Linked DNA regions of Homo sapiens. The protein of the gene in region 3 purifies or fractionates together with the protein of the main gene of each other region. This does not show direct contact. Each region holds a gene or a part of one and is shown on either strand. Other genes may lie near its edges.

Region 1 (3,640 bases), on a different chromosome or scaffold from region 3:
AAGCATTTCTTGGTGTCCTAGTACATGAGTCATATTTAATAACTACTACAGTGAGCAAAACGTGGGGTACTACACACACAAAAAAAACTCAAGCACAAAGCCCTGCCCTCTGAGAACACATATTTTAAAATAAATTATAATGGAAGAATAGACTTTGTATCTGCAGGTCAAAGGAATGCAAGCACTAGCAGAGAAGAACCATGCCTGTCCTATAAGTGCATGTAATGACTTTTGTGCCACTATGATTTTTTGCCTCATTGAAATTTGTATACTATCCTGAAGTTCTGATCTGCAGTTACTTTTGGAACACACTCAGTTTAGGGGAATTATCTAAGATAAGTTATATTATCACATAAAAAGACAAAGATTTGACAGAATGCACACACAATACTGAAGCTTAGGGTGACAAACCTTGATCCACAACTGCAAAGAAGTATCACGGTATAGGAGGTTTTAGGAAACACTTTCTCCCTGATATTTTCTGGGCATTTTCCAAAATTTTTGCCTATGTTTCTTATCTGATAAATATAATTTCTCACACTATAAAGGCAGATCATGTGGATAAACAAATTCCTTTAAGATGTCCTTTGTCAGACCTTGAAACACAATGTTATCAAATCATGAAGTAGAATGAAAGAGTATAGAGGACAAGATACTCATACTTAAAACCGGGAATCCTTAGAACCCATTAAGTCAAGAATCTGGAGACTACTTATGAGAAAGATAACGTTATGGCTCTGGACACACAATCATATCCTGACTATGAAGAAAACCTGCCCCGTCCTGCTTACACTAAAAGATCATCTCTCCTGTTGTGCCATTATATGGAAGAACAGGAGTTACAGAGATGCTGCCAGAAAAGGGGGAGCCACTACAGACGAGAAGACAAAAAATCACGGTAATTATAGAAATACAAATGAGTTAGTGTTTGCAAACAAATATTAGAGAGAGACTACAAAGTGTGAAAAGGCAGAGATATAATAAGATTTGAGAAATGGAGCAGAAGATTGAAAACAGGTGTTAGACACAGAATTTCTGGTGCTGAACACCAGAGGTAGGCAGAAGCGTGCTTCTGTGTTCATGCACTTCAAGGTTTAAGACTACGATGGCTCAGAAAAGGACCCTGTGGTCCTTTCATGCATGATGAAAATCAAGTGTGCAAGACAGTGGGTACTGGAGCACACGCAACCCAAAAGGGCATTCAGTGCTTAACATGGGCTGTCCTTGGGTCAAGCGAGAATGCATGGTTTAATTTAAGGAAGATTAAGCACACACACATACACGTACGTATGGAATAGCACACAGGTATTTTATATATATATACACAGATTTATATTATAATAATTTTTATTATTTCCATACATCCAGAATAGCTATATTTAGCACAGTAAAGGGTAAACAAATGGCTAAAAGGAGCTAAGAAGGAATGCTGGGGGAGCCATCGGTCATCTGACCCTTCTATCTCCTTCACAGATGCCCCTTTACGGATCTTCTTTCTCTTGTTCTAGAAGGTCTGGGAGCCTCATGCGAGACACAGGTGTGCAAAAGATGCACCTCACTACCACAAAGGGGCTTCGGAAAAGGAAGCCGATCCAGAGTGCAAAGTTCCCATTTCCAAGATGATTTAGAAAACATGTGTTGAGGCCGGGCGCGGTGGCTCACACATGTAATCCCAGCACTTTAGGAGGCCGAGGCGGGCGGATCACGAGGTCAGGAGATCAAGACCATCCTGGCTAACACGGTGAAACCCCGTCTCTACTAAAAATACAAAAAATTAGCCGGGCGTGGTGGCGGGTGCCTGTAGTCCCAGCTACTCGGGAGGCTGAGGTAGGAGAATGGCGTGAACCTGGGAGGCAGAGCTTGCAGTGAGGTGAGATTGCGCCACTGCGCTCCTGCCTGGGCGACAGAGCAAGTCTCCATCTCAAAAAAAAAAAAAAAAGAAAAAGAAAAAAAGAAAAAAGAAATAAAACATATGTTGAGGGCATTGATCAGGAAATCATGTTTTTGAGATTGTGAAAGATGAGAATGACTGAATGCACTGCACTATTTTAAATTCCAGATGCCCTTAGGCAAGGAATAGTCTCCTCTGAGTATAAACTAACTACTAGGGCTTTAGGGGAACAGGTTCACCTGTATTGAATCGGGTTCCTGGGCAAGTAAATTAAAATAATAAAACAAAAATAAACAAAGAAACAATACATCTACTTGTCAAATAACTGATCTGAGTATTAAAAGACAGAACTTCATTGGTCAAGACAGGTGAAGTCATTTGCTCATGTAGAGTTGAGAGTTGCCATCTTACTTAACTAATGCAACACTGATTAACTAGCTTTCCCTAATGATACTAAACTTGAAGCATAGTACTATTAATGAGGTGATCAAGGCAGAATGCCAGTACTTGGAGACAGCAGAAGGCATACAGACGTAAATGTGACTTCCCAGGGAAAGATCCTCAGGATGTCCCAACTATGACCACTGGCTCAAGATCTTCCCCTCAACCCAGTGTGCCTTATTCAACTAGCAATACTTGAATCTCATGGTTCCTGGACATCACTTCTCAATTCCAGCTTTGCTACTTCCACGGCAACCACTTTTCTGTTCTCATAATTATATTCTAGTTCTTGTTATCATAGGGAACTACTGCTCCCCCTCTGAAATCTCCATCTTCAGTTTCCCACTCCGATCATGTTACATTTTTCTACTTTTTCCACTCACTTCTTCTACTGTGTATATATATACACACACACATATATATATACACATACACATACAGTATATATATTTGAACATATATATATATATATATATGCTCCACCCACTTCATTAAAGCCTGCAGTCCACTTATTTGCCCTGCTATGCTTTTCCTGTCTATCTGACCATTCCTCTCTATGCTTTCTTCCCTCCAACTTGGATCCCATGACCCTCATCTCAACTCCTCCATTGTTATCCATCTCTTTCAGATAGAATCCCAACCCTCAATCTCTTGAACTGTTCCCATTTTCTGCTTGTACGCACACAACTTCTCTGGTTCCACTACCAAAACGCAAAACAGTTTTGCTTTGGAAAATAATCACCAAATCGTGTGCATTGGTGCCAATACACAGGCATGCAATCATGATTTCTAGACTCAACTAGGTCTCGCACATAACACATCCATGTCAAGATCTCTCTCATTGACCTGACAGCCATTCCTAGCCTTTCTCCTGCTCTACACAGTGCTGCCCTAAATCCACTCTTTTTTTCTCAGGAGATAACCATGTCCACCTCACAGAGACACTAGAGGACATGTGGCCATGTGTCCTCAGTCTCCTGTTTCCCTCACTAAGACTTCTGTTTGCATTCACCCCATCGCTGTGTCATGCCCTCTCATTTCCATGGAGAAAGCATCCTTTCAACCGACTTTCTATTTGTTCCCCAGATTCCATCTATTTGTTGCCTTAGGAACCTTGCTCTATATTTCTTATCTATCCAGAGTTTTTAAAGTCAACATCTATTGAACACTTCCATATTCTGCACCAGACACTCAGACAAAAACTTGGAAAACATTATTTCATGTCAATTCTATAGTAACCCTGTGGAATGGGCACCACTTCCCTGGACTCATTCTCTCTGGCTCTGTCTCTGCTTTTGCTCTTAAGTC
Region 2 (4,425 bases), about 50 Mb from region 3:
AAAAGGGCCTGAGGGTACCACTCTTCAAGGCAGAGCGGCCACCTGATGAGCCCTTCCCTGGGACTCTGGTCCCAATTTGGTTACTGGGACAACGCTGTCTCCCATTAGACACGCTTTGAAGGAAGACCCTGGAGTGACCGGCTCAGTCATGCTGGGAAGGATTCAGCTGTCTAGCTTTCAAATGCCTTTTTTTTTTTTTTTGGCTTTTTTATTTCTTTTGGAAAGATAAGAGTTGATGCTTTTACCCTAAAACTGTGTGCCAAGCCGCTCTGGCTATCCTCAGCCCCACTCTTCCCCTATCTCTGTAGCCCTCCTTTCCGTCCTTCATAGGCTGCAAGCTGACTGGCGCCCGACCCCAGGTCCACACCCACCTCCCTCTACCCCCTGGTCCATGCACCACTCCCGGCCTCCTCCCCCACTCTTCTCTTTCTGGCCCCGCTGCAGAGTCTCGGGCCCCTCGGCTTCCTGGGCGCCTGGCCACCACGCAGCGCCTGGAAGTGCTCCCTCCCTCATCTCTCGTTCCCCACTTTGGAAAGCCGGCCACCGGACAGGACAGCTCCCGGGACAGCTCCCGCAGCCTGCTGCATTGCAGCGCAGCCGTCTGTGAGGGAGGGGCGCAACCTGCAGCCCCCGCCCCCCGCCCCGACCACCCCCGCCCAGCAGCCCCCAGCCCCGGCACGGCCGGCTCCCCCGCCGCACCGCACGCATCTGTCGCAGTTAAAAGCGCCGCTGCCAGAGCAAAAGCGCCGGTCCCTCTTGACTGTCCCCCTCCTCACTTTTCGGGCTCAGAAATGTGGCCCAGGCAGCCCCCTTGTGGCACGTGGGGGCGCCACAGACTCTTGGCTGGTGTCTGAAGAATTCAGACTGTCTGATTCCACCGCACCGTGAGTTGGCACAAATCTTCGGTGGCCCAACTCCTACCCGATGCAGAACTCTGCTCAGCGGCCTCTCTGAGTGGGGGGCACCTCTCCCCTCCCCTCTCCCCGTCCACACCTCTCCCTTCTCCCTCCAGGGAGGAAGCGAAGGAACTCTCCTGTTGAATATTGCTCTGACAAGCAGACAGGTGTCTGGCAAACGTGATTGGGGTGGTGGGGGAAGGGGGGGGCCAGGAGGGTGGTGGGAATGGGGGCTTTTCTCGAAATGACGTTTGGTTTCCATCTCTTATCTCACAGATGGGAAACCGAGGTGCGGGGAGGGCCATAGTCCCTGTCTGTGTCAGAGTCAAGGCTGGAGATCCTCCTCCAAGTCCAGCCTGGGGCATTTCCCTGAGGTGCCGGGGCACCCTTAAGACGTACCCCTCTTCCCCCTCCCACTTGTCCAGCCCCTCCAGATCTGGTTCTCCCCGTCCGGAAGCCCTGGAGGGCCCCTGGATGTTCTCTGTCCTCTCTAACTCACTGTCCACACAAACAAGCCCAGCCCCCTCCGTCTCTATCTGCAATCTACTTGCAGACAGGCAGGGCCCTCTCCACATCAGGTTAATAATGCCATTTTCATAAGCCTCTGCCCATAGGTGCTACCACCTAATTTTGAATCTGCCCTTCAAACGGATTGGGCCACAGAGGAGCTGGGATCTCAAGCACCGCTGGGAGGTGCTTATAACTAATCAATCCGTCCCCTGCCCACCCACACCCCCCCAGCACTCGGCACAGCCTCGCTGAGCAGCCTTCAGCAGCAGGGTGTGGTGGGGAGCCTCGGAGAGTCTGGGGTTCCATCCTGGCCCAGCCTCACACCAGCTGAGAGACGGTGAGTATAGGACTTTGCCTTTCTGTGCCTCAGTTTCCTCATCAATCTAATGGGGCTCATGAGACCAGTGTGCAGGGTTATTGCCCGGGTGAGTTCTTTGCAGACAGCCCAGTTCGGGACTTGGCTCCAAGACGGGGCTCCATAAATCTCCATGCCTGCACCCCCTCTTGATCACCTCAATTTCCAGTGTCTTATTCCCTGTTTGTTTCCCCCACCAGACCGACTGAGCTTCGAGGACAGGAAGCCACCGGCATCACTAAGCCACCGGCATCACTTCATCCCCAGCCTCACGCTTGGGACTGGGCCCGGGGAAGGTAGGTACACTGTGGTGGCTTGGAGAATGAGTGCATGGATGGATGTCTGTCCCATAGTCTATGGGATGCCCGGACCCCGCTGAGTTTCTCCTCCCCAGACCCCTGTCTAAGCTGGCCCTTCAAGGAAGCCGCCGGGAAAAACTGTTCCTTTATGCCTTCATGCTTTACCCCTCGTGCTGTTATATACAATGCAAATTCTCGGTCTATTAAATGCAGATGTGGGCTCTGCATGTCATTTATGCTGCCTGCTGCATCTACTGTGAGTTCCACAGGCCGGGGGCTGCCTCCGGCTGACTTGATTTGTGCGATTAAGCCAGCAGAGGGGACTCTGCCAGGAGAGGTTCCCGTTTGTATTGGGAGCAGGGTCTTGAAAGGCCAGGCTGTTTTCTCTCTTGCGACACTTGTTACATACCTCTCTCTCCCTCCCTGGGTCCCACCGTCTACTCCACAAGCATTTATGAAGTGTCTGATGTGTGCAAGCCTACACTTATCTCATTTAGTCCTCACTTCACGCCAGTGACGGAGAAACTCTCATCTCCATTTCACAGGGGAAAAGCCGAGTCTGAAAAGTAAAGGGAATTGTCTTGCAGCTAGAGAGCAGGGAGTCAAGCCGGTCTGCCTGGCTCGGGAGCCCCCAGCCCTGCTGTGGCTGCCTACTGCTGCTGCTGCTGCTGCTGCTGCTACTGCAGGGCTGACCAGGGCTGGCCGGGAGGCCAGCAGCTCCTGCAGAAAAGGCAGGGGGCTGCATACAGAGCGTTCTCCCTAGCAACTGGAAAAGGGGCCATAGAAAACCCAAGAGGGCTGAGAAGCCGCTCAACAGATAGACATGGAGCAGCTGGCCCCAGGAGGGGAGCACCACGCCCTCCCCTGGGCTTTTAGCAGAACAGCAGGGCAAAGGGCTCTGTCCCAGGTCTAAAAGAACAGAGACAGAGGTGTTAGGACAGGTGTAGAGGCGCCCAATCCTGTTCCCACCATTGGTGGGGGTATTGCCATTCAGCACAGAAAGGAGAGGACTGAAAAGAGAGGGAGCCCACAGCCTGCAGAGATCGGAGGGCAGAGGGGGCAAGGGGGCTGCTGCACAGCCGAGGAGGCAGATGCAAAAGGCAGGGGAGGGCTCAGCAAAGCAGCTCTGCGTGCGAGCCCTGAGCAGGCTGCCTGGGGAGAGAGGGAGCTCCCTGTTACAGGAGGCATCCGAGGGGAGAGAGGCAGGCCAGTGCTTGGCTGAGAAGGCTGCAGCACGGTTTCCTGCCCAGGCTGGCAGCCCACATGTTTAGGCCTTTGAGAAGCTCCCACAGCACCAACTCCTGAGCAGGCAAGCGGGCAAGTGAGCGAGGTGGCCAGAGGGGACCAGGCAGGGGTCAGTATGAGGCCATTTGGCCTCTCCCGAGTAGCTTGCCCTGGGCTAAATGGCAAAGGCACAGAGATGGTTGGCGGGGTGCCTCTGTCCCAATAAGGCAATGAGGGAGAGGAGCAGAGAATGGGGTTGAGTGCCCAGGGCTGGTGGGGGGAGGTGGGGACTGTCCTGCTGCCAACTCCCCTCTTGAGGGCCAGAACACCTAGAGTGGCCAAGCACCTGCCCTGGCTCCTGAGCCCACAGAGGCTGGCCTGTGTCCTCTCTGGGGCAACAGGCTGGCAGAGTGAGTGGAAGGAGCGAGGAGGTCTGGCAGGTTGAGGGGCCCTTTTCTGGAGGCTGAGCAGCAACCACAGATGCAGCCAGCTGCCAGACTGTGACTTACATGTTCAGTGGACTCATGAAAGCTCCTCACACAGTGACAGGGCTGGGGTGCCGGCCTGCTGATGAATGCAGCCCACACGGGAGTCGGGAGCTGCCTCTCCTGGCCCATTCACAGGGGTTCAGTTCCCAGGAACTGTGGGACCTTTATCAGGGGACCTCTGCTAGACAAGGCTCTGTTCTGCAGTTTCCAAAGGAGTTTTCTGCCTTATGCTCCCAGTGCAGGCACTCAGCATGTGTGTGTGCGCGCATGTCTGTGCGTGTGCGTGTGTGCATATGGGGGATGGCTGCGAGGCCAGCCAGGGCTCCTTGTCTGTGAAATGCCCAAGGTCCTCGGGGGCAGAGATGCACCTCCATGGAGCAGAAAAATTTCAAGGAGGGCAGAGTCATTCAAGGATGGAGCCCATCCTCACTGCAGCCTCATTGTCCTGCTCCTGACAACCCAATCTGTCAGCCCTGGGGTCGCCACAGCTGCTCCGACCCGCCGTGGGGGGGCAGCATCGTGTTGCAGGTGGAGTGCGCAGGCTGGTTTGCCTTCCTGGCTAACAGACAGACAGACGGCCCTGGCAGCTCAGTTAGGCACTGCAAGCCCTTCGGGAAAAACTGTTTGTTTCTCGGGAGCCTCTGTTTTTGTTG
Region 3 (3,640 bases):
TATACAACATTTAACATAACATTTATTTAATAAGAAATATAATTTAAAGTTTTTGAAGGACAATCCTTCCTCTCTTATTTTCTACTGTTAAGCTATTTTTCCAAGTTATTCACTCTCTCACTCAAATATGAAAACCAAGAGTCTCTCATAATGTCAGACACAGGACACAAAAAGGACAGTATATTCATATAGTTCAGCTGTGTTACTATCAAAAAATAAGAAAGTAGGTGATGTTTTGATATCAAATGTCAGAGAAATAACATCACATACATCTATTTTTTATTACCTTCAGATTTTTAGGCATTGGACTAGACTCTTAATATTTAAAGATCAAAGTATACTGGTGGAGAGAAGACATAAGAAACAGCTACATTTTCTTTGCTTACAAATTCATGCTTAAAAAAATAACATAAGACTTGGTAACCTACAACCAACTGCTGAACTTAATTAAAAATCACAATGGGCTGGGCGCAGTGGCTCACACCTGTAATCCCAGCACTTTGGGAGGCTGAGGCGGGTGGATCACCTGAGGTCGGGAGTTCGAGACCAGCCTGACCAACATGGAGACATCCCATCTCTACTAAAAATACAAAATTAGCCGGGCGTGGTGGCCCATGCCTGTAATCCCAGCTACTAGGGAGGCTGAGGCAGGAGAATCGCTTGAACCTGGGAGGTGGAGGTTGCGGTGAGCTGAGATCACACCATTGCACTCCAGCCTGGGCAACAAGAGCGAAACTCTGTCTCAAAAAAAAAAATCATAAATAAATAAAAATCACAATGACCTGTGGTCCTGCACCAGTCAATAAGGCATGGTGATGGCCATGCTTGTGTCTTAGATAATATGCCTGCCCCTAAGCTTAGAATTCAGCTACAGACACAGGTTCCGGTGACTCAATAAGAAAGAGATTTAAGACTTCCTTTGATTACCCAGTTATCCACTTGGTTAACTCCCTAATGCCCTTCAAGTCTGTTCAAATCTAACCTTTTCAATGAGGCCTACCCTGACCATCCTTATATAATTCCCCAACCTGCCTTCTTCACTCCATTCAGGCATTCCTGATCCTCCTTAACCATTCAACCTTTTCTTCTTTCTATACCTTTAATCTCCTTGTAACGTATTATACAATGTGTTTATTATGTTTGTTGTCTCTCTCCCCCCACTAAAATTTGAGTTCCATGAGGGGAGGAATCTTTGTCCGCTTTGTTCACTAGATGTATCACAAGGCACCACAACAGTGTCTGCCCCATAGGAGGCCTTCTATAAGTATTTGTTGAATGTTAAATACTCCTTTGCATCCTGTCCTCCCAGTTCTCCATCCCAGCTCCCATTCATTAACATGCCTCACTCTAACCATGCTCGCAGTGGAACAACTAGGACTGGAAATAAACAAACAAGGCTCCAGATCAGAAAGGGAGGGAGGTTTTTACATTTATCCCCTACTCTAGTCCCTAAAAATCCATCCTATGTTTTTTCCTTTTATCTGCTTTCTGAATTCTCAATTCCTCCCAAATTCTTTGTCTTGATTTCCTTCTCTGTAGAATTCCATCTCTAAACTCAGCAATCGTCTTAGACACTTGGGTGATACGACAAACTTAAAGAATGGTAACTGAATGCTGTAATCACTCAGTCTTGATGAAAGTAAAACCCTGAAACAAGAAGAAACATTTGTGTGCCTCATTTCTCTTTCCTGTCATAGCTAAGCTGCTTCAGAGAGCAGGCTACATTCCCTCTACTTCCTCACTTACCAATCATACCTCAACTCTACTCTTAATGAACCCTTCCAACTCCTTGCTTACATGACCACTATGCTGCTTACTCCTTCAAGGCATATTTATTGACCACATACTATATACTAGGCAATATACTAGTACAGGTGTTTCAACAGTAAACATAAGATCTCTGTTCTCATGCAGTTTTAGTCTACCAGGAAGACAAGCAAAAATGAGAAGTGATAAATGATGAGTATCATGATAAAAAATGTACATGGAGCTTTGAAAACATACAGCTGCTAGGTGTGACCTACTCTAAGGGACAGAAAAGCCCCCCCACCGAGAAATGTAATGTTTAAACAGAAACCCAAAGAGTAGGCGATAAGATGGAAGAGAAAGAGTGTTCTAAAGGAATACCTGCAAAAATCTGAAAGACAGAGAGTAGAGTGCATATAAAGAACTGAAAGTTCAGTATGGATACGGTATTGGGATAAGCAGGGCCTTAACAGGAATATTATTCTAAGACTTTATTCTACAGACAAAGGAAATAAAGGAGAAATGACACAAAACTTCAGATTTATATTTTTTGGAGAATGAATTCATCTTCCTCATTGCAGTTAGAGCAAACAGGAACAAGAATGGAGGCAGCTGATGATAGAGATCATCTCTTGAAACTTTTCGTTCCTATGAAAAGAACTTCCTCATACCGCTTTGTTTCTTCTCAGACACCTTCAATATATTATTTTTCTCTGCCACCCCTCTAAGGCTACAGCCTTTCCTCAGCTCTCCTACAAACTCTCCTGGGTGACCTCACCTATATTTCACAGGTACCACCCCATAAAGTGATGATGACTCCCAAACCTGTATCCCCAGTCCAGAACTCTCAAGGCCAGAGGTGCATTTCCTACCACCTACCAGACACATTCACCTATGCAATGCCTTATGTTCAAAACCAAACACAAAATCCAGACTCCACATATTTGGTATTTCCTAACTCTGTTGATAGCATCAATGTAGTCACTCAAGCCAGAAATTCTAAATGCCATCAATTACCCTTCTCCTCCTGCCCCTCACCGATTACCAGGTGTTTTTGATCATCTTCTAAATATGACTCAAATCCATCCCTTCCTTTCATCTTCTATACCAGGGCCTAAATTTAGTCTTGCATAAACTCTCATCCGGATTATTCGGGAACTGGTCTCTACATTTCTAGCCACTTTGTAAAATCCTTACACTACACTGTAAGATATTTCCTCCTAAAAAGTGTTTCTCTAGTCCGGGCACAGTGTACTCACACCCTAAAATCCCAGCACTTTGGGAGGCAGAGGTGGATGGATTGCTTGAGCCTCCGAGTTCAAGACCAGCCTGGGCAACATGGCGAAACCCCACCTTTACAAAAAAATAAAATAAAATACAGAAATTAACTGGGCATGGCAGTGTGTGCCAGTCCCAGCTACTCAGGAGGCTGAAGTGGGAGGATCACTTGAGCCTGGGAGGCGGAGGGTCTAGTGAGCTGAGATCATGCCACTACACTGCAGCCTAAGTGAAAAAGTAAGACCCTGTCTCAAAAAAATAAAAATAAATAATTGAAAAGGTCCAAATTCTTTGATATGACACATGGAGTCCATTAGCTGGTGTTTCCTGCCAGAAAATAGCCTCTATTCTCCATCTATAAAATAATAAAAATAAATAATTGAAATGACATCTCTGCCAGATGTCACACTGAACCTGGAATGAATACAGATGCAGATCTCTCAAAACTCATCACGGCTTCTCAAGCCTCCAGGTGTTTGCACATACTATACCCAAAGCCTGGAATATCTTTTCCTATCTTCTCTACCTAGAAACCACTGGTCTTCTTTTAAAAATCCAGTTAATGTTCCTTCCTCTGTTAATCTTCCTTGGTTCACACTCCTCTCTCTCCCTTCCT

What was found. The genes of interacting proteins can lie anywhere in the genome.
Region 1: the proteins of MAP4K5 (region 3) and PTER purify together in Homo sapiens (affinity purification with mass spectrometry, with the first as the bait; one large-scale study listed by BioGRID). This does not show direct contact.
Region 2: the proteins of MAP4K5 (region 3) and RTL1 purify together in Homo sapiens (affinity purification with mass spectrometry, with the first as the bait; one large-scale study listed by BioGRID). This does not show direct contact.

The regions. Positions count from the first base shown.
Region 1 is NC_000010.11:16,506,370-16,510,009, reverse strand, and holds part of PTER (N-acetyltaurine hydrolase), read right to left. Parts: intron 1-3,640. UniProt on the Homo sapiens protein: N-acetyltaurine hydrolase that regulates feeding by catalyzing the hydrolysis of N-acetyltaurine into taurine and acetate. N-acetyltaurine has anorexigenic and anti-obesity effects that are dependent on GFRAL receptor and GDF15.
Region 2 is NC_000014.9:100,900,923-100,905,347, reverse strand, and holds the start of RTL1 (retrotransposon-like protein 1), read left to right. Parts: upstream 1-1,625; 5' UTR 1,626-1,743; intron 1,744-1,961; 5' UTR 1,962-2,057; intron 2,058-4,425. UniProt on the Homo sapiens protein: Plays an essential role in capillaries endothelial cells for the maintenance of feto-maternal interface and for development of the placenta.
Region 3 is NC_000014.9:50,522,568-50,526,207, forward strand, and holds part of MAP4K5 (mitogen-activated protein kinase kinase kinase kinase 5), read right to left. Parts: intron 1-3,640. UniProt on the Homo sapiens protein: May play a role in the response to environmental stress. Appears to act upstream of the JUN N-terminal pathway.